Linked DNA regions of Homo sapiens. The protein of the gene in region 1 purifies or fractionates together with the protein of each later gene. This does not show direct contact. Each region holds a gene or a part of one and is shown on either strand. Other genes may lie near its edges.

Region 1 (4,096 bases):
AAAGAAAGAAAAAAAAAATCAAATTAGCCAGGTGTGGTGGAGCGCTCCGGTGGTCCCAGCTACTTGAGGAGAATGAGGCAGGAGGATTGCCTGAGTCAGGAAGGTCAAGGCTGCAGTAAGCCGTGATTGTGCCACTGCACTCCAGCCTGGGGAACAGAGACCCTTTCTCAAAAAAAAGAGGTGGGGGGAGGGGGCCCAAAATATTCACAAAAGAACTTTTCCGAATGGGTAATAAGCACATGAAAAGATATCCAATATGATTAGTCATTAGGTAAGTGTGTACTGAAACCACAACATGGCCAGGCACAGTAGCTCACGCCTGTAATCCCAGCACTTTAAGAGGCAAGAGGATCGCGTGAGCCCAGGAGCTCAAGACCAGCCTGGGCAACATGGTGAAACCGTCTCTACAAAAAAAAAAAAAAAAAAAGTATTTCGGCTTGGTTGCGCATGCCTATAGTTCCAGCTACTTGGGAGGCTGAGGTGGGAGGATTGCTTGAGCCCAGGAGGTTGAGCTATCGTCACACCGCCACACTCCAGCCAGGGTGAGAGAGCAAGACACTCTCAAAAAACAAAAAATAAAAATAACTGCAAGTAGAAAAAAAAAAAGTATCTGCAAGGTCTACAGGAATAGAAGAATTCCAGAAGGATATACACAAACTATTAACAATAGTTACCTCAAAGGTAGGGTGTTAAAAAAAAAAGTATTATTCAAAACAGATGTTTTTGAGTTTAAAAAGAGTACTTTATTAATTCTACCAAGACATCAGCTGACAAGGGTAGCAGAATAGGAAAGCTTGCCATCTCCCTTAGGCTTTACTTTTGTAATTTCATAGACCCAGTCACCGATCATTATTCCCTTTCAGTTTTTGGACATTTAAATTTTGCACTAATAATCTGTTATTGATATATTGATGTTTATACAGGTTACTGCAGGCAACATTTCCAATCCAAGTGCTTCAAACAGCCTAAGAAAGTGCTTTTATGCTCTAAATGAAATTGAGGAGAAAGGAGGAAAGTACGGTCCAGAGACCATCTACAGAACAACGTATCTTTAGAATCCAAGTTTTTTTGTTTTTGTTTCTGAGACAGAGTCTTGCTCTGTCGCTAGGCTGGAGTACAGTGGCGCGATCTCGGCTCACTACAACCTCTTCCTCCCAGGTTCAAGCTATTCTCCTGCCTCAGCCTCCCCTGTAGCTGGGAACACAGGAGTGCGACCACGCCTGGTTAATTTTTTATTTTTTTTGTATTTTTAGTAGAGACGGGGTTCCAACACATTGGCCAGGCTAGTCTCGAACTCGTGATCTCAGGTGACGCGCCTGCCTCAACCTCCCAAAGTGCTGGGATTACAGATGTGAGCCACCACAGCCGTCTCCAAGTTTTTTTTGTTTTTTTTTTTGTTTGTTTTTTTTTTGAGACGGAGTCTCGCTCTGTCGCCCAGGCTGGAGTGCAGTGGCATGAGCTCTGCTCACTGCAAGCTCCGCCTCCTGGGTTCATGCCATTCTCCTGCCTCAGCCTCCCGAGTAACTAAGACTACAGGCACCTGCCACCACACCCGGCTAATTTTTTGTATTTTTAGTAGAGACAGGGTTTCACTGTGTTAGCCAGGATGGTCTCGAACTTCTGACCTCGTGATCCGCCCACCTTGGCCTCCCAAAGTGCTGGGATTACAGGCGTGAGCCACCACGCCCGGCCCCCGCCTCCAAGTTTTATCTTGAAAATTAAATTCTGGGTTTTATTCCATAAGGTAACGGGTTCCATTTTAATATAAAAACAATCTTCAATGCTCTCTTAAATAATATTCACAGTATGAATAACTATGACCTTCCAGGAAAAAATACTTTTATGATTTAGCACAGGGGCTGCAAACTATAGCGTGTGGGCCAAATCTGGCCTGCCGTCAGTTTTTGTACTGCCTTTGAGCTAAGAATGAATTTCGCTGTTTTTTTTTTTTTTTTTTTGAGACGTCGTTTCGCTCTTGTTGCCCAGGCTGGATTGCAATGGCGTGATCTCAGCTCACCACAACCTCAGCCTCCTGGGTTCAAGCGATTCTCCTGCCTCAGCCTCCCGAGTAGCTGGGATTACAGGCATGGGCCACCATGCCCGGCTAATTTTGTATTTTTAGTAGATACATGGTTTCTCCATGTTGGTCAGGCTGGTCTCTAACTCCTGACCTCAGGTGACCCACCCGCATGAGCCTCTCAAAGTGCTGGGATTACAGGCGTGAGCCACTGTGCCCAGCCTATGAATTTCACATTTTTAAAAGGTTAAAAATATCTGAAGAATAATATTTTGAGACATGTAAAAATTATATTAAATTCAAATTCCAACCAGGTGCAGTGACTCATGCCTGTCATCCCAGCACTTTGCGATGCCTATGTGGGCAGACTGCTTGAGGCCAGGAGTTTGAGACCAGCCTGGGCAACATAGTGAGACCCGTCTCTACAAAAAATTTAAAAATTAGCCAGGTGTGGTGGTGCACACCTGTAATCCCAGCTACTCAGGAGGCAGAGGAAGGAGGACTGCTTGAACCCAGGAGTTCAAGGCTGTTGTGGGCTACGACTGCACCACTGCACTCAGCCTGGGCACATAGTGAGAACCTGTCCCCCCAGCCCAAAAGAAATTATCACTGTGCAGGAAGTAATGAATAAAAAGAAAAAAGTCTTCAAATTCCAGTGTCCATAAAGTCTTATTGAAATAGACACATTCATTCACTTACCTATTATCTATGGCTGCTTTTGTGCTACAACAGCAAAACTGAGTAATGAGCAACTGGGACAGAGACTGTATGGCCCACAAAACCAAAAACGTTTGGTTAAGACCTTCGCAGAAAAGGACTACTGGCCAGGGGTGATGGTGCATGCCTATAGTCCCCGCTGCTAGGGAGGCTGAGGCGGGAAGATGGCTTAAGTCCAGCAGTTCAAGACCAGCTTGGGCAACAAAGCAAGACCCCATCTGAAAAAAAATAATTAAAAAGGTCTGCTGACCCCTGGCTTGGCCTATATTAGTTCAAACTAATTGTAAGTCCCCATTTAGAGACGTGTGCTATGTGGTTACAGCACAGTTCCCAGTACAACTTAACCTAGTAAAGCCTCAAGTTTCCTAATTTACAAAGTGAGGACAATGACACTTAACTCAGAAGGTTATTGTGAAGATTAAATGAAACTTGGCTCATAGTAAGCACTCAAACTGCAACTGCTATTATATCTTTTTTTTTTTTTTTTTTTGAGATCTAGTTTCCGCTCTTGTTGCCCAGGCTGGAGTGCAATGGCGCGATCTTGGCTCACTATAACCTCTGCCTCCCATGTTCAAGTGATTCTCATGCCTCAGCCTCCCAAGTAGCTGGGATCACAGGCATGCGCCACCACACCTGGCTAATTTTGTATTTTTAGTAGAGACAGGGTTTCACCATGCTGCCCAGGCTGGTCTCTAACTCCTAACCTCAGGTGATCTGCCTGCCTTGCCCTCCCAAAGTGCTGGGATTACAGGCATGAGCCACCGCACTGGGCCTAGAATTTTTTTTTTTTTTTTTTTTAAGAGACAGGGTCTCGGGCCAGGCAGAGTGGCTCATGCCTTTCCAGCATTTTGGGAGGCCGAGGTGGGAGAATCACTTGAGGCCCGAGTTCAAGACTAGCCTGGGCAATACAGCAAGACCCTATGTCTTGAGAGAGAGAACAAACGAACATGACAGACCAACAGACAGACAGGGGGTCTCACTATGTTGCCCAGGCTGGTCTTGAGCTACTGGCCTCAAGTGATCTCCTTCCTCCTGCCTCAGCCTCCCTAAGTGCTAGGATTATAGGCCTGAACCACTGTGCCTGGGAAGATTTTTGTTTTACAATACTTCTTAATACTACAAATGAATGTGTTACCTTAATCTTCACTTCAGTGAGAAGACTAATGATTTCATCATAATACTTTATCACCTTTCAAAAGCTTTCGAATGTTGGAAACCCAGAAATTTCTAATAATTTCCCCTGTATTAAAAAAATCTTTAGGCTGGGCGTAGTGGCTCATGCCTGTAATCCCAGTACTTTAGGAGGCCGAGGCAGGTGCATCACCTGAGGTAAGGGGTTCGAGACCAGCCTGGCCAACATGG
Region 2 (4,096 bases), on another chromosome or scaffold:
TATTATATATGTAATTGTACCTATATAAGTATACATTATATATATTATGTATACATCAATAAATAACATTTAATTAATAAGGTCACATGTACCTTTTAAATTAGTATTTATAATAAGGCTACTGCTTTCTCTTCTGCATAATCTTGTATATCTTTCCTCTTCTTTTCTTTTGAAATGAGGAGAACCAGATATGGAGTCCTAAGTAGATCAAGCCCTAGGCTTAATTTCACTCTACTAGACTACTACCAAATATGTACTGGTAAGCTGCAGACCAGCATAATTTATTCTCTAGTGGGCAACTATGACAACCCTTCCATTCAAAGAAGAACAGCTGAAGAGTTTTGAATTCATGTATTCCCAGAGGGCTTCATTTAAATCACCTATGAAATTTGTCTTTCCATCCAAGAGAGCCCAAAAAAGATGTGTGGGCAGAGTGGAGGAAGGTACAATAACAACAATGAATTAAAGAGTAGTTTCACAGAAATATCCAAGCCTTGGGAGAGGGGGCATCTCTAATCCCAAGCAAGATCCTAGATAAAATAATTGGCTTGTGGACACTGATAAATTACCACTATTTTAAAGCTTGGCCAGCAATCTTTTTTTTTTTTCCTTTTGTGGATTTTGACTCAAAAAAAATTAATCAAAGCTTGTGTAGAAGTAAAAAGCAATTTTATTTCATTTTTTAAAACAAACTGAAATATGAAATGTTCCCCTTACGAAACCTTTGCTAATTCAAGAGACAACATAAGATTCTATTAGGCAAATAATAAACGTGTTTATCTTCTTTTATATTCTCATGAAGTAGCACTGTGAAACAAGGCAGAGGAGAAGAGAAATAGCTACACACACAAAAGGGAGATATAATTATGCAGAGCTGCACTTCTGGAAATTCTGAAATGCTAGTCTTTAGTTGGAGGGATGTTATTCTCTTACCAACTAACTGTCCCTTAACATTAGAACTGGAGGCAGATGCCAACCTTTTCAGCTTTCTTGGACCTCCTGTTCTTTTCACACTGGTTTTTGCTTTTAACTGGACACTTTAGATGTTTCTTTCTAAAAAGTTCCTTCTTTCATAAAGTCCTTAAGATTTCACATGACAAGGATTCATTTAAGTTTTAGAAATTTCCTTTTTACTATTAAGATGCTAGACTCTTTTGATGTTTGAAAGCCAGCCAATTGCTAAATATTTTGATCATCTTCCATTATGAAGTGAGAAAAATTATAGCAAGTGCAAAGAAAATTGGCACTTGGGCATATTAGTCTATTAGCAAGACCATTTCTCACTTAATGGTGTTTTATGGGTTGGAGTAAGTCTGCTCCCTCTCGCCCCCAAAATACTCTTTAATAGCACAAATTTGGATCAATTTAATTGACCTGCATTCTGCCAAGGCACCCCACTCACACCTTTGTACCTGCAGAACTACAAATGTAGTGTTTATTACTCATATCCAAAAACCTAAACAGAACAAAACAAAATAAAGTGATTTAAAAATGATAAATCATGAAAAATCTAAGAAGCAACAATAAATACCTAGGATTCTGGATCACCAATTCTAGTCAATCCAAGATGATACCAGAACATGACAGACCTGGCTTCCACTACAGCCCTGGGGGTTTTGTGTCATTAAAACACTAAAGACCCAGAGCAAATTTTAGACATGACGGGACTTGTGACAACTGGTGTTTAGTAGAAGAGGCCTACTGAATACTGAGACTTCACAAGTGAAAAAAAAGTGCTCATAAAATAAAAAATCATCATTACTGAAACTTCCCTCCACTGACTTCCTCTTAAAGAATGGCATAAGTGACAGCTATAAGTCATGAAGAAGTGAGCAAACAACATGTATCCCTAGGGAGAGAAACAGAAGACTAGCACTTACATTGCGGGGGCTACTTGAGAAACTGGTTTCTGAGCTGCCTGAATCTATACACTGACAGAAAAGGGAACCAGGTTGAGGGCCACTGAGAACAAAAGCAAAGGTCTGGACTAGTACCACACTCACTGGCCAGTGTGCCTCCCCCAGGCTCAGCAAGGAAGAGAAACCCCCAACTTTCTGCCTGGGGAGAGAAAGAAGGGAAACACGGTCCAATGTTCTAGCTTTTCCAAGAGCTGGCCAGAGGACTGGCTTCTGTCTCACCCCACTAAGCATGAACCCTGCATGTTCTAGGTGACTGGGGACTGCTAAGAATAAAAAAAAGCTGGGTTGCTTGCTACTGATCCACAGGACCCATAGAGCAGACAGAGGCTGATATAGCTCTGCGGCTTATCTTGGGAGGGGAGGCTGGGAGAGAATAGTGGAGTGTGTGACCAACATTTGAACTTTTCAAAGGACTGCCTAAGGGAATGGTTTCTGTCTCACTCAACTTGGGGTGCTTTGGATCAGCATACTTTAGATGCTTGAGGGCAGCTGAAAACAAAAAAAGAGGCTGATGGCTTACAGCAACTCTGGAGAACCTGCAATACCATGGACAGACACATGAGAGAGAAAAACAGCAGCTAATGAAAAAACTGACCAAATCTCTCGGCTTGGAAATTTATAATCACAAGTCCAGGGAAGACACATCCACAGAAAAGGCTTACGAAGCCCCTAGAATCTGCAGTCAAGCTGACTAGTAAAGATCTTTCTCTATATGGTAGTGCCCCCTTATACACAGGCGAGACATTCCATAAAGCGCAGTGGATGCCTAAAACCACAGGTAGTACTGAATCCTATTTATACTATGTTTTTTCCTATACATACTTACCTATGATAAAGTTTAATTTATTAATAAGACACAGTAAGAGATTAGGAACAATAACAATAACATAGAATTAAAACAATATACTATAACAAAAGTTATGTAAATGTGGTCTTTCTCTCAAAATATCTTGTGCTGTACTGTAGATGGTACTGTAGATCTTAGCAACCTCAGCATACAATTTTCTTTCCTTTCCTTGTTAAGAACTTTCACCTTTTCACTTAAAGGAAGCATTTTATGGTTTCTCTTTGTCATATCCGAATTGCCAGCATCATTACTCTTGTGCTTTGGGGCTACTATTAAGTAAAATAAGCGCTACTTGACACAATTACTGTGTTCTGCAACACAGTGACAATTACTGCCATGCTGCAACAGTCAATCTGGTAACCAGGATGGTCACTAAACGATTAACGGTAGATAGCATATGTAACATCAACACACTTGACAAAGGGATGATTCCCATCCTGGGCAGGACGGCACAAGATTTCATCAGTGCTTTACTTAGAACAGAGTGCAATTTAAAACTTATGAATTATTTATTTCCAGAATTTCCCATTTAGTATTTTCAGAATGCAGTTGACCACAGGTAACTGAAATCACAGATAAGGGGGGACTACAGTACAAAGCCAGTCTGTAACAAAGCCACTGTGAGGGAGTGAGGCCCTGTCTCCCAAACAAAACAAAACAAAAACAACGTTATTAGCTATGTCACAAAATAAAGGAAGAAAATCATATGAGCATCTCCATAACTGCAGAAAATACTTGACAAAATTCAACACCCATTCATGATTTAAAAAAAAAAATCCTCTCGCCTAACCAGGGGTAGAGAAGTGCCTCAACTTGGTAGGTTTATGAAAACATATTAAGAATATAAAAAAAACTTACAGCTAACATCATACTTAATGGTAAAAGACTGAATGCTTTCCCCAAAAAATTAAGAGTAAGGACAGGATGTCCCTCCACACCACTTTCAACACTGTAGTTGAGGTACCAGCCTGTGTAACAAAAAGAAACATAAAGGCATATAGATCAGAAAGGAATGAGTAAAACTGTCTTTATCCACAAATGACATGATTGTGTATGCAAAAATTTCTAAGGAATCAACAAAAAAGATGCTGGAATTAAAGTGAATTTACTGCAGTCAGAAGACGAAAGGTCAATATAAGTTATATTTCTTTGTGCAAGGTCTGTGCAATGAAAATCAAACAACACTGTTGAGAGAAATAAAGATAGAGAAGTGTATCATATTCATACACTGAAGACTCGGCATTGTTAAGATGTCAATTCTCCCAAATTGATCTCTAGATTCAATACAATTCCAGTGAACATCCCAGCAGGCTTTTGGTAGAAATTGACA
Region 3 (4,096 bases), on another chromosome or scaffold:
TGTTCTGTGGACCTCCTGAGGGCTGTGTCACTGGCTGTGGTCACTCATATTAGGCTCAGAATAAATCTCTTAAAATATTTTGCAGTTTGACTCTTCTTGCCAACACAAGTAATCAAAATAATTTAATTTGACTGAAACATCTGGCTATGTGCAAGATGTTGCTAGAACATGGAGAAATGAGGCTAGAAAAATGGGCTAGAGCCATATTACAAAGATTTTTCAAATGCCCCAGGCAGAGGATTTCATTGGTTCAGGTGACTATAGTAAGAATGTGTCAAAAACCTGTCAAAACAGACTATTGTTAAGGTTACTACTGAAGTTACTCAAAACAAAACACACAAAAAACAAACAACAACAACAAAAAAACAAAACCCAACCCATAGTAAAAGTTTAGCATGGGATAAACTTGCCAGTGTCAACAAAAAATCAAACTCTGTAAAATATCTGAAGAGATTTATTCTGAGCCAAATATGAGTGACCACAGCCCATGACACAGCCCTCAGGTGGTCCTGAGAACATGTGCCCAAGGTGGTCAGGGTGCAGCTCGGTTTGACACATTTTAGTGAAACATGAGACTTCAATCAAATACATTTAAGAAATGCATTGGTTTGGTCCAGAAAGATGGAACAACTTGAAGCAGGGGGCTTCTAGCTTATAGGTTGATTTAAAATTTTTCTGACAATTGGTTGAGCTTATCTAAGGACCTAGGGTCGGCCGGGCGCGGTGGCTCATGCCTGTAATCCCAGCACTTTGGGAGGCCGAGGTGGGTGGATCATGAGGTCAGGAGACTGAGACCATCCTGGCTAACACGGTGAAACCCCGTCTCTACAAAAAATTAGCCAAGCATGATGGCGGGCACCTATAGTCCCAGCTACACGGGAGGATGAGGCAGGAGAATGGCGTGAACCCGGAAGGTGGAGCTTGCAGTGAGCTGAGATCGCGCCACTACACTCCAGCCTGGGCGACAGAGTGAGACTCTGTCTCAGAAAAAAAAAAAACAAAAAACCTAGGTTCAACAGAAAGGAATGCCTGGGTTAAGATAAAGGATTGTGGCAACCCAAGTTACTGTTTGCAGAGGAAGCCTTGAGGTACTAGGCTTTAGAGAGGAGAGTTTGTAAAATGTTTCTTATCATACTTAAAGTCTGTGTTGATGTTAATGCCAGAGAGGTATACTGAGGCATGTTTGACCCCCATTTCCCATCATGGCCTGAAACAGTCTCTCAGGTTAAATTTTAAAAGAGCCCTGGTTGAGAAGGAAATCCATTCAGATGGTTGGGGGGCCTCTGAATTTTATTTTTGGTTTATACCAGTAATCTAAAAATCAAGCTTTTGTCAGTAACTTGGAAGTACACTCTCAATGACAGTACTTCGAACTCTTATTCCAGACAGCACCTGCTGAGCTCTTAAAATGCATTATTTTATTTCATCTCCACAATAATTCTGTGAGGTAGGAATTATTACTCTGTTTTGTAGATGAGGATACCATGGCTCAGAGAGGTCAAGTAGTTTGCCTGATGTCACACAACTAGCAAGTGCAAGGGCCAGGATTTCAACTCAGGTCTGACTCTAGAGTCTGTGCTTGTAATTAACGCGCTATGCTGCCTTCTGCTCCCTTGAATTACTGCCAAGTATGTCAAATCTGTTATCCTTCATACTTTAATAACAGTGACTAACATTTATTGAACACATTTATTATTGTGTATGCCAGGTACAGCTTAAATGCTTTACATGTATTAACTCATGTTAACCTCAAAACAACTGTATACCTGTTTCACAGATGAGAAAACTATGGTACAGAGAAGTTAAATAACTTGCCTGAAAATAAAGTGCTACTGAATGGAAATGGAGCCAGGATTCAAACCAAGGCAATCTGTTTTTTTGTTTTTGTTTTTGTTTTTTTTGAGGTGGAGTCTTGCTCTGTCACCCAGGCTGGAGTGCAGTAGCAGGATCTTGGCTCACAGCAACCTCTGCCTCCCAGTTTCAATCGATTCTCCTGCCTTAGCCTCCTGAGTAGCTGGGATGACAGGTGCCTGCCACCACACCCAGGTCATTTTTGTATTTTTGGTAAAGACAGGGTTTTACCATGTTGGCCAGGCTGGTCTCGAACTCCTGACCTCAAGTGATCCATCTGCCTCAGCCTCCCAAAGTGCTGGGATTTTAAGTGTGAGCCACTGCATCCGGCCTCAAACCCAGGCAATCTGGCCTGAAGCCCATGTTTTAACCATTATGCTATGTGGCTGCCATTATCATTGTTGGCATATGTCAAAAAAAGGTATTATTACCTACTTAAGGCATTACATGAAGAATTCAGAAAGCTTTTAATATGGCTCTGTTGACCTGACGCTTCCTTTAATAAAAACTCTTCACAGTTATTCAATATTTAAGAATTGTTAAAGAGTGTAAACTTGGCCAGACATGGTGGCTCACGCCTATAATCTTAGCATTTTGGGAGGCCGAGGCAGGCAGATCACGAGGTCAAGAGATGGAGACCATCCTGGCCAACATGGTGAAACTGTATCTCTACTAAAAATACAGAAATTAGCTGGGCGTGGTGGTGCACACCTGTAGTCCCACCTACTCGGGAGGCTGAGGCAGGAGAATGGCTTGAACCTGGGAGGCGGAGCTTGCAGTGAGCCGAGATTGCGCCACTGCACTCCAGCCTGGCAACAGAGCGAGACTCTGTCTCAAAAAAAAAAAAGAGTGTAAACTTACATTATCTTATTTGATCCTTACGAAAACATAATGTAGTAGACAGGACAGGCACCACTGCCCCGATTTTACCAATGAGGAAACTAAAGTACAGAGAGGCAAGTTGTTTGCTCCTAGTCACAGAGCTGGCTGATAAAGAAGCTGGAACAAGGATGATTATCACACTCTTTCCAGCTGGGCAAACTGAAGCCCTGAGTTTTTCAGCTTCCTCACCATTATGTGGTAACAGACCTGGGCCTTCCTTGTTTCTTACGCTTTCTTCCTCTGAGCCTTGGCACATTTCACATTTTGAGAAGCAGCATGGCGGAATAAAAAGTAGGGGGGACGTGGGGCCAGAAAAGCTGATCTCCTATCTGAGCTTTCATTCTCACCTACAAAACAAGGATAGAGAGGTAGCCTCCTACTCACGGGGTGCACAAGCCAGTCTATCCAAAGCGCCTGACACTTGTGGATTGCTATGGTGGATTATTAGATGTTGGAGCAGTGTCTGCACCTCTCATCTAAAGTCATCCTTGGTATGTGGCTTCCTTTCTGCCTTGTACACATATGAGCTCATCAAAGTGATTCCTGTGTGACCTCTTCTTCATAAGGGTCATTTTGGGTTGAATTATCACAAAATCATTTCTGAATGTCTCATTTGAGCCAAGCCTGAACATTCTTCCTCTTAGATATAAAAATTCATTTTCTCTGAATATCTTGAAATTTGCCTTCCTAAAATATATCATATATGTCTGATTTGCCCCAATCTAAACTCTTAATGTACTTAGAATCTGTACATTTCAGTTTAGCTCTGACTTATACAGTCTTCTTTACATTGTGTTAGATATTATCTTGCCTTGCCCCTTTAATTATAGTCATACACAATTTGAAAGCAATGGCCATGTTCTACATATTTGTGGACCCACAGTGCATGGCACTGTCCTAGACATGTAATAAATATAATTATGAAATCACCAGAAACTCAGAATTGGAAAGGACTCTAGACCTTGTCATGCAGTCCATCTGGCCCATCAGGGCAAGAATTCCTTATAGATGGCCATCTAGCCCCTGCTTGAACACTCCAGGGCTGGGAGCTCACTCATTTGCAGGCAGTCTATTCTACTGTAGGATGGTTCTCTCTCCACCTGCCTCTTTTTATAAAAGAGATACACTGTCAGAAGACACACTGTCAGATTCCATTGCAGAGATACAGAGGAATCCTGCAAATTGTCCTCTGACAACCCTGCACCCACCTCACTGTAAACCAATGTCCCACAGTGCCTCTCCAATTCCTGCATCATCTGACCCAGCCCCACTTACTCATTTTGTAATCTTAGGTAACTTATGTCACCTCATTAAATCTCAATTTCTTCATCTTTAAATGAGATGAAAATTCCAACCTCACATG
Region 4 (4,096 bases), on another chromosome or scaffold:
AATCTTAGCTATTATAATGGTTTGTGGCCCTCCAAAACTCAGTCGTATCTAACAAAATCTTAGTCCTTAGTATTTAATTTTTCTCAGCAAGGAGTAATCAAATTAAATTAATGTAATCAATTAAATTAAAGTTAATTTTTATTTTTAGAAGGTAGTGATTCTAAAAAGTTGAGAACACTTTGCTATAGGAATTGGTGTGTTTTTCTTAGAAAATCTGAAGCTCTATCACAAGAGTAATAGCAAATGTAACTAAAATGTAAATATATGTTCCTGTGGTCTTTTTTCTCTGCCTGGTACATAATTCTAAATATAAACTCATCATTAATCTTTTAAAGTTCATTCCTCACTTTATTCATACTTCCTAAACAATAATAGCTAACATTTTTCAAGTGTTATTATCTGCCAGATACTGTTCTAGGGGATTAGCTTATTTATCTTTCACAACTACCCTTTTGCAATTTATTAATACTTTCTTGTATCCATTTTAGAGATCCAGAAACTGAGGCAAACAGAGGCTCCTCTGTATATAAGGTTACACAGCTGGTACATGACAGAGCTGGGCAGTAGGGCTCTGCCTCTGAACTCTTCACCTGGTTAACTCATCAGCTTTCAAAGTGAGGTTAAAGAGTAATCACCCCTCTCCATTATCAATCCATTACCTCAAATCCTTTCCAAGTCTAGCAGCACATGACAAGTGCCCACAGTTAAATGCAAAAGAGTTGAGATGATATATTTCCCCTCAGTCATCGCAGCCATATTCCTATTTCAGTGAGTACTAATCCAAGTTTTGAAAACTTCTCAGGGTGTCCCAATTATCTTAAATAATACTGTAAAATTACCTAAATTTTTCTTATAACAAAGTTAATTTAGTTCACTTAAAATTTAAAAATGAAAATTTGCTATAGAATGATTTGTAAAAGGAAAGTTGTAAAATTAATAACAAACGCTCCCAAAACAAGCTCTTTTACATAGTTGTAGAAATGCCAGTTTTAGGTGAAATAATATTAATGATTACAATAGCTAATTATGTGTCTTTACTATTGATCAGGCACTGTGCTAAAAGACCTCATTCTCATTTTTAAATCCTTACAAATATCCCGTGGGTTAGATATTATTCTTCCTACTTTAAAGAAATAGGATCTAGGGTTCAGAAAGGTTAAATAACATGTCCAAGCTTACACAGAGCTGGAATTTGAACCCAGACATGTCTGACTGTGAAGTCTATGCCCCTCATTGCTAGTCTATATTGCCAGGTTTCCCTTCTTCCCTGCCCTTGAACTAACCAGGCCCTTCATCCTGCTCTAGGCCCTCTCCTGCAATGCTCACCTCTGGGAAACCAGTGATGGTACACTAGTCCTTAGCTCACCTTTTAATACACAACAGAATTTCACACAATAAGGATAAATGTGCCTCGGTTTTCCCATCTGGAAAATAGAGAAAAAACCAATCCTATCTCATAGGATTGTTGGGAGGGTTAAATGAATTAATACATGATAAGTGCTTAGAAAAATGCCTGGCCCACATGAGCACTCAATATATGGTGATATTTTTCCTTGTATATGTTTTTGTAATTTACACAATCTGTTCTCTTTGGACACATTTAGATTTCAATTAGTAATGTTATAATACCATGCATTTTATACCTCCACAAAATGCAGAATAAACATTTTTGAATTATAATTTTAATGATTAACATTATAATTAATGAGTACTCAGGGGTTCTTAAACTGACATGTTTGAATTTTAGGAGGGGGAAGGCATATAGTGTCTGTGCTGAGAAATTTTAATTATATAGAAGGGGTGATCCTCCTTTGATATTCTTATGTTCTTTCCTTTTTTTTTTTTTTGAGACGGAGTCTCGCTCTGTCACCCAGGCTGGAGTGCAGTGGTACAATCTTGGCTCACTGCAATCTCTGCCTCCTAGGTTCAAGCAATTCTCCTGCTGGGGCAGGAGATTACAGTAGCTGGGATTACAGGCTCACTGCAACCTCCACCTCCCAGGTTCAAGCAGTTCTCCTGTCTCAGCCTCCTGAGTAGCTGGGATTACAGGCACATGCCACCACGTCCGGCTAATTTTTGTATTTTTAGCTGAGATGAGGTTTCATCATATTGGTCAGGCTGGTCTAGGACTTCTGACCTCAGGCGATCCATCCACCTTGGCCTCCCAAAGTGCTGGAATTAGAGGCGTGAGCGGCTGCACCCGGCCCCATTTTTTTTTCCCCCATTTCCCCACTGGATACCTCTTACACAATTTCCATTCTTACTTGCTGCCATACCTCCAGGGCAGCAATAGGACAGCTGGATGCAAGGTACAAGTCCTGAGCCAGGTTATAATCGTTGGTAAACATGGCAAGGTGTCCTGCCAAAAGATTGTAGTCCTCTATTCCCTACAAATAAAAGCAATTCTGATGAGAAAAAAAATGCAAGAGTTTAACTTTTTTTTTTTTTTAAGGACTTTGATCAGTAGGAAGTGGTAACGTTCTATCGATTCACTTGTTTAAGAGGTAAGATTAAATGCAAAAAATTTAGACTGCATTTAACTTAAAATAGCATTTAAATTTTAACTTGATAATTCTATAACATGCTGTTTACCTTTATTTGTTCCAAGGACATCACTATGCCAACATTTCCAATTCTCCGATAAACACGGATTGCAAACTCCACTTCCATGTGATGTAGACAAGCTCTGGCCAACTCATTCCAGGCAGCCTCATCATTCAGAATCCTGCACATTTCCCAAGCATCAGAAAACCTGGGATGTAAGAACATAAGCTTAATCAGAATGTTCCACTTGCCACATGTTAGGCAATTTTCAGACTACATGTCATCTAATAGCGTGCCCCAGATAAACTGTCTAAAACATTTCTTAACCTGTAATTGTCATTTACAAGTAATGAAAAAACACTTAAGCTTTCTTCCTTTTTTTACAGATAAATGTTTTTCCCTAAATTTCTTTTATTAATCTGAATCTACTCTGTAATAAGCCTACTCAATTAACTAAGCTAATCCTATTCATTTATTTCTTTTTATTTCACACATAGATGAATATTATTTTTGTTCTCATATAAGTCTAATAAAATTAGTATTCTATTCCTATAAATTTAGAAGTTTAAAACAGGGGTCAGCAAACTATGGCTTATGGGCCAAATCTAGTCAGGTGCTGTTTTGAAAATACAGCTTGAGTGGAACAAAGTCACTGATCAGCCCACTCTTTTTTTTTTTTTTTTTTTTTTGAAGACGGAGTCTCACTCTGTTGCCCAGGGTGGGTGGAGTGCAATGGCGTGATCTCACCTAACTGCAACCTCGGCCTCCTGGGTTCAAGTTATTCTCCTGCTTCAGCCTCCCGAATAGCTGGGACTACAGGCGCATGCCATGACACCCGGCTAATTTTTTGTATTTTTAGTAGAGACAGGGTTTCATCGTGTTAGCCAGGATGGTCTTGATCTGCTGACCTCATGATCCGCCCGCCTCGGCCTCCCAGAGTGCTGGGATTACAGGTGTGAGCCACCGTCCCCGGCCCAGCCCACTCTTTAATGGATTGTCTGTGGCCACTTTCCTGCTACAACAGCCAGACTGAGTAGCTGCGATAGAGACCCTATGGCCCGTAAAGCTTGAAATATTTGCCATTTGGACCTTAACACAAAAGGTTTTCCGACCTCTGGTTTAAAACATGAACATAAATGCCAATTAAACTTTTTGTGGAACCTCTACATGAGTGAATATATTACATCCATCTATCTATTCATTCATCCATTTATCTATTCACCTATCCATTTTTTCATCCAACACACATTTACTGAACTCGTTACATGCTTGGAAACATGATACAAAAATCAACCACAGTTGCTGTCCTTAAGGCAGTCACAATTGGGGAAGGTGGAAGAGACAGATAAGGAAACAAATGACTATAGCATAGTTTGACAGAGGTAACTGAGTACTTACAATAGGTAACTCTTTGTGCTAAGTCTTTTGCATAAATTCTCTTACCCTAATAACCCTACCCACTAAGTATTATTATTATGTCTCCTTTATAGATTAGGAAAATGAGGCTTAGAGACGTCAAAAGACTAGCCCAAGGCACACAGAGGTAAGTGGT
Region 5 (4,096 bases), about 55 Mb from region 1:
AACCCCACCACCTTGAACATCAGAGAGAACCAGGCAGTCTCTTAGGCAAAGATGTTGGTAATAAAATCCAGGAATCGCTTAGCATACTGCTCCGGATGGACAGTAGAGATCTCTGCCCCAGCCTGTGAGAGGAGATACGGAACAATATGTCAGGCCACCCTAGCACCCGTCCCCATCACCCCCACCCAATCTACCCCAGACCACCTCCATTCTTTTGCCACCCCATTGCTCTGGCACAAGAGACTCTATTCCCAAAGAATAGTCAAGACAGGAAAGGAAAGGCTTTTGCGAACTCTCACCCCATGCTTGACAGTTTTGGCTGCATGAGCTGCTTTCTTCTTAGCATCATACTGTGTAAGGATATCAATGAGGCCCATGAAGTAGACCTCCTTCTGGGGGGCTCCTGGGAGAGAGACCAACAATTCAGAGTAGGTTTAGTTCCAATTCCCTTTCTCCAGGAAGCAGTCAGTTTTGTTCTGAAAAGCTAATCAGGCTCTCCCCCAGCACTCTGGTCTCTGTCCTCCAGGAAAAATCCCCTCTCCACCCTTAAATTGTCCCGGTTCTCTCACCTTCAGCACTCCGGATGGCATAGACATCAATGAAGGACTCAAACTCTCCTGGGCCCAGGGGCCGATGGGAATGGATGTAGCCTCCGATACCCTCTGGGGAGGTGCCATAGGAGCCCACCAGAGCAGGAGGTCCAGTCAGGCTGCAGTCCCCATCCACCTCTGACTCATCCTCCCGCACGGGCGCTTCCTCCTCTGGTTCAGAGCCCCGAATGATGTCGTGGATGCCTAGCAGAAGGCTGTAGTCCATGATCTTCAGCTGCACTAGAAACTGAGACCCACTGACAAATCAGACACCTCTCTCTCACTCTTCACTGCTAGGTATCACCCCTGTACCTGTACCTTTGAATTTCTGGGGCCCTTCTGGGGAAAGGAAGTATAAAAATTGAGGTTGCAGGGCATACCACTGCCTTTAGTGCCTATATGTCCTAGTATCTAAGATCATCCTTTTAGCTTATTCCAGCCACCCCTTCCACGGGTCAGCTCCAGGGGTTTTTCATGTCTCATACTAAACCCCCATATAGGCAGAGGACCTGAAGAATAAAGGGAAGGGGAGGAGCTCCCTCATACCGTGAATGAAAGAGACAACTACCCTCTAGGGAGCAAAAAAAGGAAAGCCATTTCCCAGAGCACCCAATCATCACCTCCACATCTCTCTTCAGCTTCTCCAGAAATATTTTCTTCTCCTCTTCACCAATATATACTTTCTGGTTCTTGTTGAGAAAGTCCATATCCTTAAGGGTGGGCAATTCTTTAACCTAAGAATATGTAAAGGGACATCTTGGGAACATATCCCTTCCCCAAGGTCTCAGAACCCCACCTTCTGTCTAGGGCTCTATGCTAGCTCAGTTAGATCTCATCTAACTCCACACTGTGATGCTTCCCTGGTCTGTTCTCACCTCCAGTGACTTCCACAGACTCAGTCACTACAGCTGTATCCCAAATCACATCCCACTACTCTCTGCTTATGGTTTTTAGCCAAGACCCTCCAGGCTGACTTTTCTTTCTCCTCTTTTTTTTTTTTTTTTTTTTTGAGATAGGATCTCGATCACTCTGTTGCCCAGGCTGGAATGTAAGTGGTGTGATCTCAGCTCACTGTAGCCGCGACCTCCTGGACTCAAGTGATTCTCCCACCTCAGCCTCCCAAGTAGCTGGGACTACAGGCGCGTGCCACCACGCCCGGCTAATTTTTGTGTTTTTGGTAGAGATTACGTTGCTCAGGCTGGTCTGGAACTCCTGGGCTCAAGCAGTCCTGCCTTGGCCTTCTAAAGTGCTGGGATTACATGCATAAGCCACCATGCCCGGCCTGTGTCTTCTTAAGCAAAAGTAGCTGCTTGAATAAAATAACCCAGAATGGGAAGTGGAAGTTAAACACTTTGCTCTTCAAGTCTGGCAACCTCACCCATCCCCAAGCCTTCCATATGGAATAACCCATGCCAGTGTTAAAGCAGCTGCTCCCACTGCCCCTTCCAAACAATCCCCGGATCAACAGAAGTTTACCCCCTTCTTTTAAGTGGTTTAAGATAATAAATAGCTAGTAATCCCTATTCCTATATAGAGTGGCCTCTCCATCCTAAGAAGTTCCCCTCATCTGCCCTCCCTCATCCCTCATCCCTCACCCTAGCACATAAAATTACTATCACCTTTTCCTTATCGCTGGCTTCCCGGGACACTAGGGAACCCTGCAGAAAGACCCAAACACCAAGTCAGTAGAAGTGGCTAAAAGAACAGTCAGAACCCAGCCCCTAAGATGAGTACTCAAACCCAGCCTTCTTTCCCTTAAAAGGAATCATCCAAAGACCTCCCAGGGTCTTCCCCATTCTCAGGCTATCAGGAGCCTCCCTCTAAGTCCGAGCTACCCTCTTCTTACCTTGAGGTCATACTTCCTGTGCACAGGAAGACGGTGGCTAAACATATTGCGCATCACAAGCATGTAGCTGTCTTCGTTGTCCACACTGACTCGGTACATCCCCAGGAACTGGGGCAGAAGCGTGTTGCCATGGCACTTCACAATGTACTACAGTGAAAGAGGGGGAAGGAATGGGGAGAGGCTGAGTAGCAGATACACAAACAGCCCAGGGAAGTTCAAACACTGCCATTCCAGGGTAGAGCAGAGGACTTCAAGTAGAGAGATTACAAAGTCAAAAGTGGTGGAAGCTTCCCCAAAACACTCCAGGTTATCCATGCCGTTTCTGAATCCCCCTTTCCTCTGATTCCTTCCATTTGTACATCTCTTAATTTTTAAGTGTCATCTCTCAATTCACCTTTATCATTCTTTGAGATGAGGAAGGTTAAGTGTTATTATCCTTATTTTAGACCCTTTCTATATGCAAGTGGCACAGAACCAGGATTACAACTTATATCTTATCAATGAAATCATTTTATCTAGAGCAGTGTTTCTTCATAGGCTAGATTCCCATAATTTAAAATGTCTGCATTGGGTTGGGCTGTGCTGTGTCATTCTGTCACTGTAATATAAATACAGATTTTTATACCTAAAAAAAAAAAAAAGTCTGCATGATGGCCTACAATTTGGATTTTTTTTTTTTTTTTTTTTGGAGATGGAGTCTCACTCTGTTGCCCAGGCTGAAGTGCAGTGGCACAATCTAGGCTCACTGTAACCCCCGCCTCCTCCCAGGTTCAAGCAATTCTCCTGCCTCAGCCTCCCGAGTAGCTGGGAGTACAGGCGCACACCACCACGCTCAGCTAATTTTTTGTATTTTAGTAGAAGCGGGGTTTCACTGTGTTACCCAGGCTGGTCTCGAACTCCTGAACTCAGGCAATCTGCCCACCTCGGCCTCCCAAAGTGCTAGGATTACAAGCGTGAGCCACTGCACCCGGCCTACAATTTGGATTCTTTTTTAAAAATTCTCCTGTTAAGCCAGGCTCACACCTGTAATCCCAGCTACTTGGGAGGTTGAGGCAGGAGGATCGCTTGAGCCCAGGAGTTTGAGACCAGCCCGGGGAACACAGTGAGATCCTGTCTCTAAAAAACAAAAATTACTCCTTCAGTGCTTACCATCTCTCTTTCTGTGTTGCTGCCTCTTTCTCTTCACAGCCAACCTTCTCAGGAAAGTAATCAGCAAGAAATCCATTTCCTGTCTCTCATTCACACGTTGAATCACTGAAATCAGGTTTATACCTCATTTCTCCTCTGAAATCTCCCCCATATCCCTCAGTTGTCAAATCTAGTAAGTATTCTAGTCATTGTCATATTTCAGCTTTGTGGCACTTGATCCTATTGACCAGTCTCTCCTTAAAAGTCTCCTCATCCTCAGCTCTTATTATACCACCCTCCTGATTCCCCTCCTCTCTGTCGTCGAATCCCGTATGGAATGTAGCATGGCATAAATAATTAAAAGTGTCCATCTACTCTTAGTTTCCTTTATGGGCTCATTTCTTCACTTGTTCCTTTAGGTTCTGTCCTCAACCTTCTTTTCATTTCACTGCACACAACCTCCCTACAATAATCGTATCTATAGCCATGGTTTTAATGATCACTTACTCACATATAATTCTCAAACCTATAC
Region 6 (4,096 bases), on another chromosome or scaffold:
ATTTTCAACTCACAATGGGTTTATCCAGACTGTAAGTTGAAGAGTGTCTGTATATCAGTCTTTAAAGGAAGACAAGATCCAGACTCAACATAATGATATTCACAATGTCCAGCATCCAATCAAAACCTACTAATCATGTAAAGAAGCAGAAAAACAGGCCGGGCGCGGTGGCTCACACCTGTAATCCCAGCACTTTGGGAGGCTGAGGCAGGCGGATCACGAAGTCAGGAGATCGAGACCATCCTGGCTAACATGGTGAAACCCTGTCTCTATTAAAAATACAAAAAATTAGCTGGGCGTGGTGGCAGGCACCTGTAGTCCCAGCTACTTGGGAGGCTGAGGCAGGAGAATGGCATGAACCCAGGAGGCGGAGCTTGCAGTGAGCCGAGATACAGCCACTGCACTCCAGCCTAGGAAACAGAGTGAGACTCTGTTTAAAAAAAAAAAAAAGAAGCGGAAAAATATGACTTGTAACCAGAAGAAAAATCAGTTATAGAAACAGACTCAGAAAAGACAGATATAATGGAATTAGCAGCAAAAGAACATGAAAAGAGCTAGTACAGGCTGAGCATCCCTAATCTGAGAATCCAAAATGCTCTAAAATCCAAAACTTTTTGAGCACTGACATAATGCTCAAAGGAAATGTATATTGGAGGATTTCAGATTTTGGATTTTGGGATTTGGGATGCTCAACTAGATAAGCATAATGCAAATATGCCATAATCTGAAAAAAATCTGAACTCCGAAACACTTCTGGTCCTAAGCATTTTGGATAAGGGATACTCAGTCTATATAAAGGCTACTATCAAGGATGAAAGAAAACATACACAGAATGAGAAGATTAATGGAAGATATACAAAAGGAAACCAAATGGAGCTTCTAGAACTGAAAAAAATATGTGAAATAATAATCCACTAGATGGGCTTAAAAGCAGACTAGACATTGTAGAAGAAAAGACCAGTTACACAGCAATACAAACGATCCAAGTTGAAGCACTGAGAAAAAAAGTAGACTAAAAACAAAAAACACCAAGCCTCAATGACCTGTGGAGACAATTGTGTGGGCATACAAACTTGGAATTAGAAGGAGTGGGAGGGAAGAAAAATATATTTAAAGAAATATTGGCTAAGATTTTCTGAATCTGATGAAAACTATAAATCCACAGACTGAAGAAGTTCAAGTAGGATAAACACAAAGAAAACCACACCAAGGCATATTAGGAACAAATTGCTGAAAATAACTGATAATGGAGAAGAAATCTTAAAAGCAGATAGGGGGAAAGATACATTACATACAGGGGAACAAAGATAAGAATAATGATCGTCTTCTCATCAGAAACAATGTAGGCCAGGCGAGGTGGCTCACACCTATTACAGCGGGTGGATCACTTGAGGTCAGGAGTTTGAGACCAAACTGGCCAACATGGTAAAACTCTGTCTCTACTAAAAATACACAAATTAGCCAGGTGTGGTGGCATGTGACTGTAGTCCCAGCTAGTCAGGAGGCTGAGGCAGGAGAATTACTTAAACCCAGGAGGTGGAGGTTGCAGTGGGCCCAAGATCATGGCACTGCACTCCAGCCTGGACGATGGAGTGAGACCCTGTCTCAAAAAAAAGAAAGAAAAGAAAAGAGAGGGGAGGGGAGAGCAGGAAAAGGAAAGAAAAGAAGGAAGGAAGGAAGGAAGGAAGGAAGGAAGAAAGGGAGGGAGGGAGGAAGGGAGGGAAGAAAGAAAGAAGGCCAAAGACAATAAAATAACTATTTAAAATGCTAAAAGAAAAAAATTGTCAGCCTAGAATTCTGTGTCTGGTAAAAAGTTGAAGATGACATTTTCAGACAAATAAAGCAGACAGAATTTCTTGCCAGACAACCTGTTCTACAAAATAATGATAAAGTTTTTCAGGCTGAAGGAAACTGATGCCAGATAGAAACTAGGATCTACACAAACAAACAAGGAGTGTGAAAATTATAAATAAGTGTGTCTAAAAAAAAAAGGCTTTGACAATTTGGGGCCGGGCGCGGTGGCTCACGGCTGTAATCTCAGCACTTTGGGAAGCCAAGGTGGGAGGATCACTTGAGGTCAGGTGTTAGAGACCAGCCTGGCCAACATGGTGAAACCCCATCTCTACTAAAAATACAAAAAATTAGCTGGGTGTGGTGGCATGCACCTGCAACCCCAGCTACTCGGGAGGCTGAGGCAGGAGAATCACTTGAACCTGGGAGGCAGAGGTTTCAGTGAGCCAAGATTGCACCACTGCACTCCAGTCTGGGTGACACAGCGAGACTCTGCCTCAAAAAATAATAATAATAATAATAACAATAATAATTTGGATCCCCTACGTAATCTCCTCCCTAGAAGGCTTCATTTTAGAGACACACACAAACTTCATCTTTTCTCCTGATATTTGAACATAGGCTTCCACTGTGCCACAGCTACTTGCCTTGTTAGTACTGTTTTCCCTGCGTTTATATAGCTAGCCATTAACTAACTACTATGCGTCACACACTGGAGATGCAAAGATAAAGAACATGTGTTGTCTGCCATCAAGAAGCTTAGAGGTCTGGTGGGAAAACAATCAAGCCAACAAAGAGTTAAAGCACAGTACATCCTAACTGTACTCAAATCCTGGCTCTACTCACTTAGCAACTGTGTGACCTTGGGCAACTTACTTAACCTCTCCATGCCTTCGTTTCCACAACTGTAAAATGGGGATAATAGTAGTACTACGGGGTTGTGGTGAGAGAAAATGCTTTAACATGTGTAAACTGGAAGGACAGTGCTTGGGATATAGTCAACACCTAGTAAATATTGGCCATGTTATTACAATGTTGGTTTGCCAAGGAGGTTAGAGGAGCATGGAGAAAGAACATCCAGTGAGAGAGGGAGTGGGATGGGAAGGGAAGATGTTTCAGGGGAAGTGATGCTTTGGCTGACCTTTTGAAGGATAAGCAGGGTTATCAGATAAAGAAGGGAGAGATACTCCAGGTAGAGGTGGCAGCATTCAGCAAGGCATGAAGATGTGCATCAGCATGCGTCAGAAGACCACTGCAAATGTCTTCAGTGATGCTGCAGCCAACAGTGCCTTAGCTGTAGCCCAGGAAATGTTCTGGGGCCTCTCTAGAAGACCTTTTGACTTCCTCCAAGGGCCTCTTACCTCCTCCATAATCTGATCCATTCAGGCTCTGTGGTCTGAGGCGGAAACTGCCCCCAAAAAAGAAGAAAAGGACAGCAAAAAATGAGTTTCAAACACGGAAAGGAACATCCCAAATGTTTATTGTATCCATTCTTTCTCCTAGATGAAAATGTCCCTGAACCTGTTTTTCTCTGTCAACTTAGTCAAACCTAATTAGGCCACTGGGTGTGCCGTGTGTGGTTGCACAGGCTGTGCGATGCACTATTCCAGAGGACAGCATCACAGAGGCTATGACATGAATGCAGCTTCCGCCCCTGGGAGTAGGAAACTGGGTGGCCCTACCTTCACAGCACCTTTATCTAGAAAACTTCTTTCTTTTCTGATATAAGTCTTATGAGAAGGCAAGGCTTAGAAGCTGGTATTGCTTCTGCCCATCTATATCAATAATGCAGAAGGCATGGGCCAGTACCCTGATACCTGGACATATAATTCTAAAACCACACAGTGGGAGATAGGACATGGGCATCAATGCCAGGGTCCAGACCTTCAGTTGAGGAAGCGGGATTAACCAAACCTTGGATTCAGCAGGCATCAATAATTCTAGCCCCAGACTTCTAACACAGTGTTCAACATAGGTGGAACAGATCATGACCACCAAGACTGCACTGTTGACCAAGATCAACATAGGATACCATAAGAATAAGAATACTGGAAACGTACTCTTCTATTTCTTCAGAAGCCTTCCTCCTAAACCTGAAAAAAAAAAAGAAAAGACAAGGTTTTTGAGAGCCCACTAGTCTCATGCACCAGGTAGTATCTTGAGGAAGGTTTCAAAAGTGGAGGCAAATTAGTATATCTCAAGTGCTTTATTTGTCTGCAGTCCTCTTTAGAGACAAGCCCCACAACCAGCATGAGAGAACTGAAGATGCTGTAGTGCCTTCTTACAGCTTTATGTCAGCCTCACT
Region 7 (4,096 bases), on another chromosome or scaffold:
AAGAAAAAGAAAGAAAAGAAATTTAGAATACTTTGGTTAAGTTTCAAAAATAATTTAAATTGCCTTAAACCTGTTTATTAACTCAAGGAGAATTAATAATCTTATAATATTTAGTCTTATCTCTTAGTAGGTTTTTGTCATTTTCTAGGTATTTTGTACCTTCTTTTTTTTAATTTAAAAAAAGTTTTTTAGAGATGGAGTTCTTGCTGAGTTGCCCAGGCTGGCCTGGAACTCCTGGGTGTAGGCAATCCTCTCACCACAGCCTCCCTAGTAGCTGGGACTATAGGCACACAATCATGGCTTTGTAGAATTTTTTAAATAGCTGCTGTGAATGGGAAGATGGATTTTTTTCCCATATTTCTTCTCATTTGCTTTGCTAAGATAGAATTATGCTATTTTTCTTTCTTAATTATTATGTAATCTAGCCACTTTGGTGAGCAATTTCTTATTAAGTTAGTGGTGTTTTTGCTTATTGTTTTGAGTATTCCAGAAGCAAATAGATGTTATTTCGCCTTTCTGAAGATACGGTTAAGTCTGGGTTCTTGTCACGGAGCCCTTCTGGGCAGTTTCCCACTTCACCTCTGCCTCCTCCAAAGTGCCAAGCACGCAGCAGGTACTCAGTGAGTGTCCTCTGAATGAAGGTAAAGGAACCGCTTGGCTAAGGTCATTCCTGGCCCTGGGTGGCAGCCCTTTGATTCAGGATCTGCACCTCAGTCTTACCAGAGGGCTGGGGGCTTTTAGACCCAGGTGTCTGATTCAGGCTAGCCACCTCACAGACACTTGCCGCCCATTTCCATCTAGAGGGAAAGCAGGGGCCAGTCACCCTAGGGAGACCCCATTCAGGACAAAAGAAGCTTAGAAAAAGGACCCAGCGGAGGCTATGGCCATCCAGAACGTCTTGCTCTCTATCCAGCCAGGCTGCCTGAGGCGTGCCCTTCCAGGCTTGGAACCCTGTCTCCAAGGAAGGGGATCCAACATCAGACACAGCCCCTCTCCCCAAGTGTCCAAGATCCAAAGGGGGAAAATAACAACTGTTTCTTATTCTCTTCCCTTTATTCCTATACCCTATAGAATTGCCCACATTTATTAGTATTCTGTTTTTTAATTTCAAAAAAAGGAATACATTCATACATTCACAAGGCTCAAACATAATCTAAAAAGGTATGCAGTGAATGTCTTACTCTACCCTCATTCCACCCATCCCATAGCCACTTTTATTAATTTGCATGTCCTTTTAATATTTATTTATTCAAATACAATCAACTATGAAGATATTCTTATTTTTCCCCATTCTTACACAAAAGGTAGCATCTGATACACACATTTCTGCACCTTGATTTCTAACTTAAAATATATATCATAATAATACAAATAGTTAGCATTTATTGAACACTCATTGTATGCCAGTCATTTTTCAAACTTTTATCCATATATTAACTCATTTAATCCTTCCAGTACTCCTATTATTAACCTCATTTCTCCATGGAGAATTTTCCTTATCAGTATATAAAGAGCTTCCTCAATGGCTTACAGCTACATAGTATTCCGTTGTATGGGTGGATCATAATTTATGTAACTAATTGCCTTGTGAGGGACACGTGGGTGGCTTCTAATTCTTTGCTATTGTGGACTGTGCTGCAGTGAATATATTGTATGGATATCATCTTGTTATGTGTAGAGATAGAGCTGCAGAGCAGATCCAAAGAAAGAGGATTGCTGGGTTAAATGCATTTGTAATTCTGATGGGTATTGCCAAATTGCCTTCTGTAGAGTTATTAGTTCTTTTCATAATTGCTTAGTATTTCTAATTAAACGTAGCATTGATGAGCACTATGTATCAGTCTGGCTGGCTAGTAGGCTCTCTGTTGGTGGTTCCAGAACAAGTTGATCTCAGTGTAGTCCCAGATGAGACCCTTTCTTCTGGCCTCAGGTGGGCTGACTTATTCCTTTTTTTTTTTTTTTTTTTTGAGATGGAGTCTTGCTCTGTTGGCCAGGCTGGAGTACAGTGGTGCAATTTTGGCTTACTGTAACCTCCACCTCCTGGGTTCAAGCAGTTCTCCCACCTCAGCCTCCCAAGTAGCTGGGATTACAGGCGCACACCACCAAGACTTATTCTTATCACTGCCGGTGAGAGTAAATTACAGCAATATTTCTGGGGAACTAACAGTATTTTCCCTGGTAATATTTGAAGAAGCAGCCTTGTAATGGTTAAGAACATGGACTCTAAGCTGGACTGCCTGGGTTTTTATATTTTCTTTCGCTGCTGTAACAAACTACCACAAATTTAGGGGCTTAAAACAATGTAAATGTATTCTGTTATGGTTCTGGAGGTAAGAAGTCTGAAACAGGTCTCACTGAGGTATATAAAGGTGTCAGCAGGCTTTGCTCCTTTGGGAGGCTCTCAGGGAGAACGTTTTCTTGCCTTTCCCAGCTTCTAGAGGCTGCCCACATTCCTTGGTGCATGGCCCCTTTCTGTCTTCAAAGCCGGCAACATCACAACATTCCCACCTCTGCATTCATCACATCACATCTCCTCTCATTCTCCTGCCTCCCTGCCCTTTCCTTTGAAAGGATTCACGTGATTACGTTGAACCCACCCAGATAATCTAGAATAATCTCTTTATCTCAAAGTCCTTAATTGAATAACACCTGCAAAGACCCTTTTGCCATAGTAAGGTGACATATTCACAGGTCTCAGGAATTTGCACGTGGACATCTTTAGAGGCCACTATTCTGCTACTACAGTTTGCATCTAGACTCTACCACTTACTAATCGTGTGATCTTGAACAAATTATTTTGCCTCTTGCACCAGTTTTCTCATCCTTAAAATGGGGATAATAATGGTATCTATTCCACTGGATTGTCAGGAGGATTGAATGAGTAAATATTTGCCAATGCTTATAATAGTATCTGAGACACAATAAATGCTATGGAAGTATCTGCTAGCTAAAATATATTAACCAGGCCAGGCACGGTGGCTCACACCTGTAATCCCAGCACTTTGGGAGGCTGGGGCGGGTGGATCACCTGAGGTCGGGAGTTCAAGACCAGCCTGACCAACATGGAGAAACCTCGTCTCTACTAAAAATACAAAATTAGCCGGGGTGGTGGCGCATGCTTGTAATCCCAGCTACTCGGGAGGCTGAGGCAGGAGAATTGCTTGAACCCGGGAGGCAGAGGTTGCGGTAAGCTGAGATGGTGCCATTGCACTCCAGCCTGGGCAACAAGAGCGAAACTCCATCTCAAAAAAAAAATAACCAAATAAAAATATTAAAATACAAACACTTTGATCTAGCAGGCCTATATTTATAATCTATTTCATAGGAACAAAAGCTTCCATGATTAGGCTATATAACTTGGATATTACTAAAGTGTTGTCCATATTGGCACCAAAAGAAAAAAAAAAGGAAAGGAAAACGAAAGAAAGAAAATGCACAAACAGGAAATTACCTGAATGCCAGCAAAACGACAGTGATTGAATCAATTGTGGCCCATCTGGGATATACCAGAGCTATTAAAGAGAATACATCTGATCTGTGCCTATGCACCTAGAGGAATGCTCTGAGTGAAAGTTCGTTGAGAGGAGGAAGTTCAAAGTAATTATATGACTTGATTTATTTCTTTCTTTTTTTTGAGACGGAGTTTTGCTCTTGTTGCCCAGGCTGGAGTGCAATGGCACCATCTGGGCTCACCGCAGCCTCCGCCTCCCGGGTTCAAGCAATTCTCCTGCCTCAGCCTCCTGAGTAGCTGGGATTACAGGCATGCGGCAACACACCCGGCTAATTTTGTATTTTTAGTAGAGACGGGGTTTCTCCATGTTGGTCAGGCAGGTCTTGAACTCCCGACCTCAGGTGATCCTCCCGCCCCGGCCTCCCAAAGTGCTGGGATTACAGGCGTGAGCCACCGCGCCCGGCCGATTTCTTTCTTTCTTTTTTTTTGAACAAACATCAGCCCCCAAAATTATTGTAGATATCTAGGTCAATCATTTAACATGTTCTGTTTCTTCCTCTGGGAAATATGTATAACGACAATTCTCACTCAAGGGGCTCTTGCAAAGGTTAAGTGGCATGGCTGACATGTGTCAAGTCTGTACCA

What was found.
Region 2: the proteins of TULP3 (region 1) and RAD18 purify together in Homo sapiens (affinity purification with mass spectrometry; 3 studies listed by BioGRID and IntAct, with this or other methods). This does not show direct contact.
Region 3: the proteins of TULP3 (region 1) and IFT122 purify together in Homo sapiens (co-immunoprecipitation; 7 studies listed by BioGRID and IntAct, with this or other methods). This does not show direct contact.
Region 4: the proteins of TULP3 (region 1) and WDR19 purify together in Homo sapiens (affinity purification with mass spectrometry; 6 studies listed by BioGRID and IntAct, with this or other methods). This does not show direct contact.
Region 5: the proteins of TULP3 (region 1) and PIP4K2C purify together in Homo sapiens (affinity purification with mass spectrometry; 3 studies listed by BioGRID and IntAct, with this or other methods). This does not show direct contact.
Region 6: the proteins of TULP3 (region 1) and IFT43 purify together in Homo sapiens (affinity purification with mass spectrometry; 6 studies listed by BioGRID and IntAct, with this or other methods). This does not show direct contact.
Region 7: the proteins of TULP3 (region 1) and PML purify together in Homo sapiens (affinity purification with mass spectrometry; 3 studies listed by BioGRID and IntAct, with this or other methods). This does not show direct contact.

What each region holds. Positions count from the first base shown.
Region 1 is NC_000012.12:2,897,208-2,901,303, reverse strand, and holds part of TULP3 (tubby-related protein 3), read right to left. Parts: intron 1-4,096. UniProt on the Homo sapiens protein: Negative regulator of the Shh signaling transduction pathway: recruited to primary cilia via association with the IFT complex A (IFT-A) and is required for recruitment of G protein-coupled receptor GPR161 to cilia, a promoter of PKA-dependent basal repression machinery in Shh signaling.
Region 2 is NC_000003.12:8,953,220-8,957,315, forward strand, and holds part of RAD18 (E3 ubiquitin-protein ligase RAD18), read right to left. Parts: intron 1-4,096. UniProt on the Homo sapiens protein: E3 ubiquitin-protein ligase involved in postreplication repair of UV-damaged DNA. Postreplication repair functions in gap-filling of a daughter strand on replication of damaged DNA.
Region 3 is NC_000003.12:129,443,131-129,447,226, reverse strand, and holds part of IFT122 (intraflagellar transport protein 122 homolog), read right to left. Parts: intron 1-4,096. UniProt on the Homo sapiens protein: As a component of the IFT complex A (IFT-A), a complex required for retrograde ciliary transport and entry into cilia of G protein-coupled receptors (GPCRs), it is required in ciliogenesis and ciliary protein trafficking.
Region 4 is NC_000004.12:39,230,453-39,234,548, reverse strand, and holds part of WDR19 (WD repeat-containing protein 19), read right to left. Parts: intron 2,753-4,096; coding exon 2,593-2,752; intron 2,388-2,592; coding exon 2,277-2,387; coding exon of another isoform or gene 2,244-2,276; exon of another isoform or gene 2,241-2,243; intron 1-2,240. UniProt on the Homo sapiens protein: As component of the IFT complex A (IFT-A), a complex required for retrograde ciliary transport and entry into cilia of G protein-coupled receptors (GPCRs), it is involved in cilia function and/or assembly.
Region 5 is NC_000012.12:57,597,552-57,601,647, reverse strand, and holds part of PIP4K2C (phosphatidylinositol 5-phosphate 4-kinase type-2 gamma), read right to left. Parts: intron 3,691-4,096; exon of another isoform or gene 3,589-3,690; coding exon of another isoform or gene 3,586-3,588; intron 2,584-3,585; coding exon 2,437-2,583; intron 2,249-2,436; coding exon 2,210-2,248; intron 1,897-2,209; coding exon of another isoform or gene 1,846-1,896; exon of another isoform or gene 1,831-1,845; intron 1,325-1,830; coding exon 1,211-1,324; intron 838-1,210; coding exon 570-837; intron 404-569; coding exon 300-403; intron 123-299; coding exon 42-122; 3' UTR 1-41. UniProt on the Homo sapiens protein: Phosphatidylinositol 5-phosphate 4-kinase with low enzymatic activity. May be a GTP sensor, has higher GTP-dependent kinase activity than ATP-dependent kinase activity. PIP4Ks negatively regulate insulin signaling through a catalytic-independent mechanism.
Region 6 is NC_000014.9:76,058,430-76,062,525, reverse strand, and holds part of IFT43 (intraflagellar transport protein 43 homolog), read right to left. Parts: intron 3,885-4,096; coding exon 3,852-3,884; coding exon of another isoform or gene 3,758-3,851; exon of another isoform or gene 3,255-3,757; intron 3,200-3,254; coding exon 3,153-3,199; intron 1-3,152. UniProt on the Homo sapiens protein: As a component of IFT complex A (IFT-A), a complex required for retrograde ciliary transport and entry into cilia of G protein-coupled receptors (GPCRs), it is involved in ciliogenesis.
Region 7 is NC_000015.10:74,018,341-74,022,436, forward strand, and holds part of PML (protein PML), read left to right. Parts: intron 1-4,096.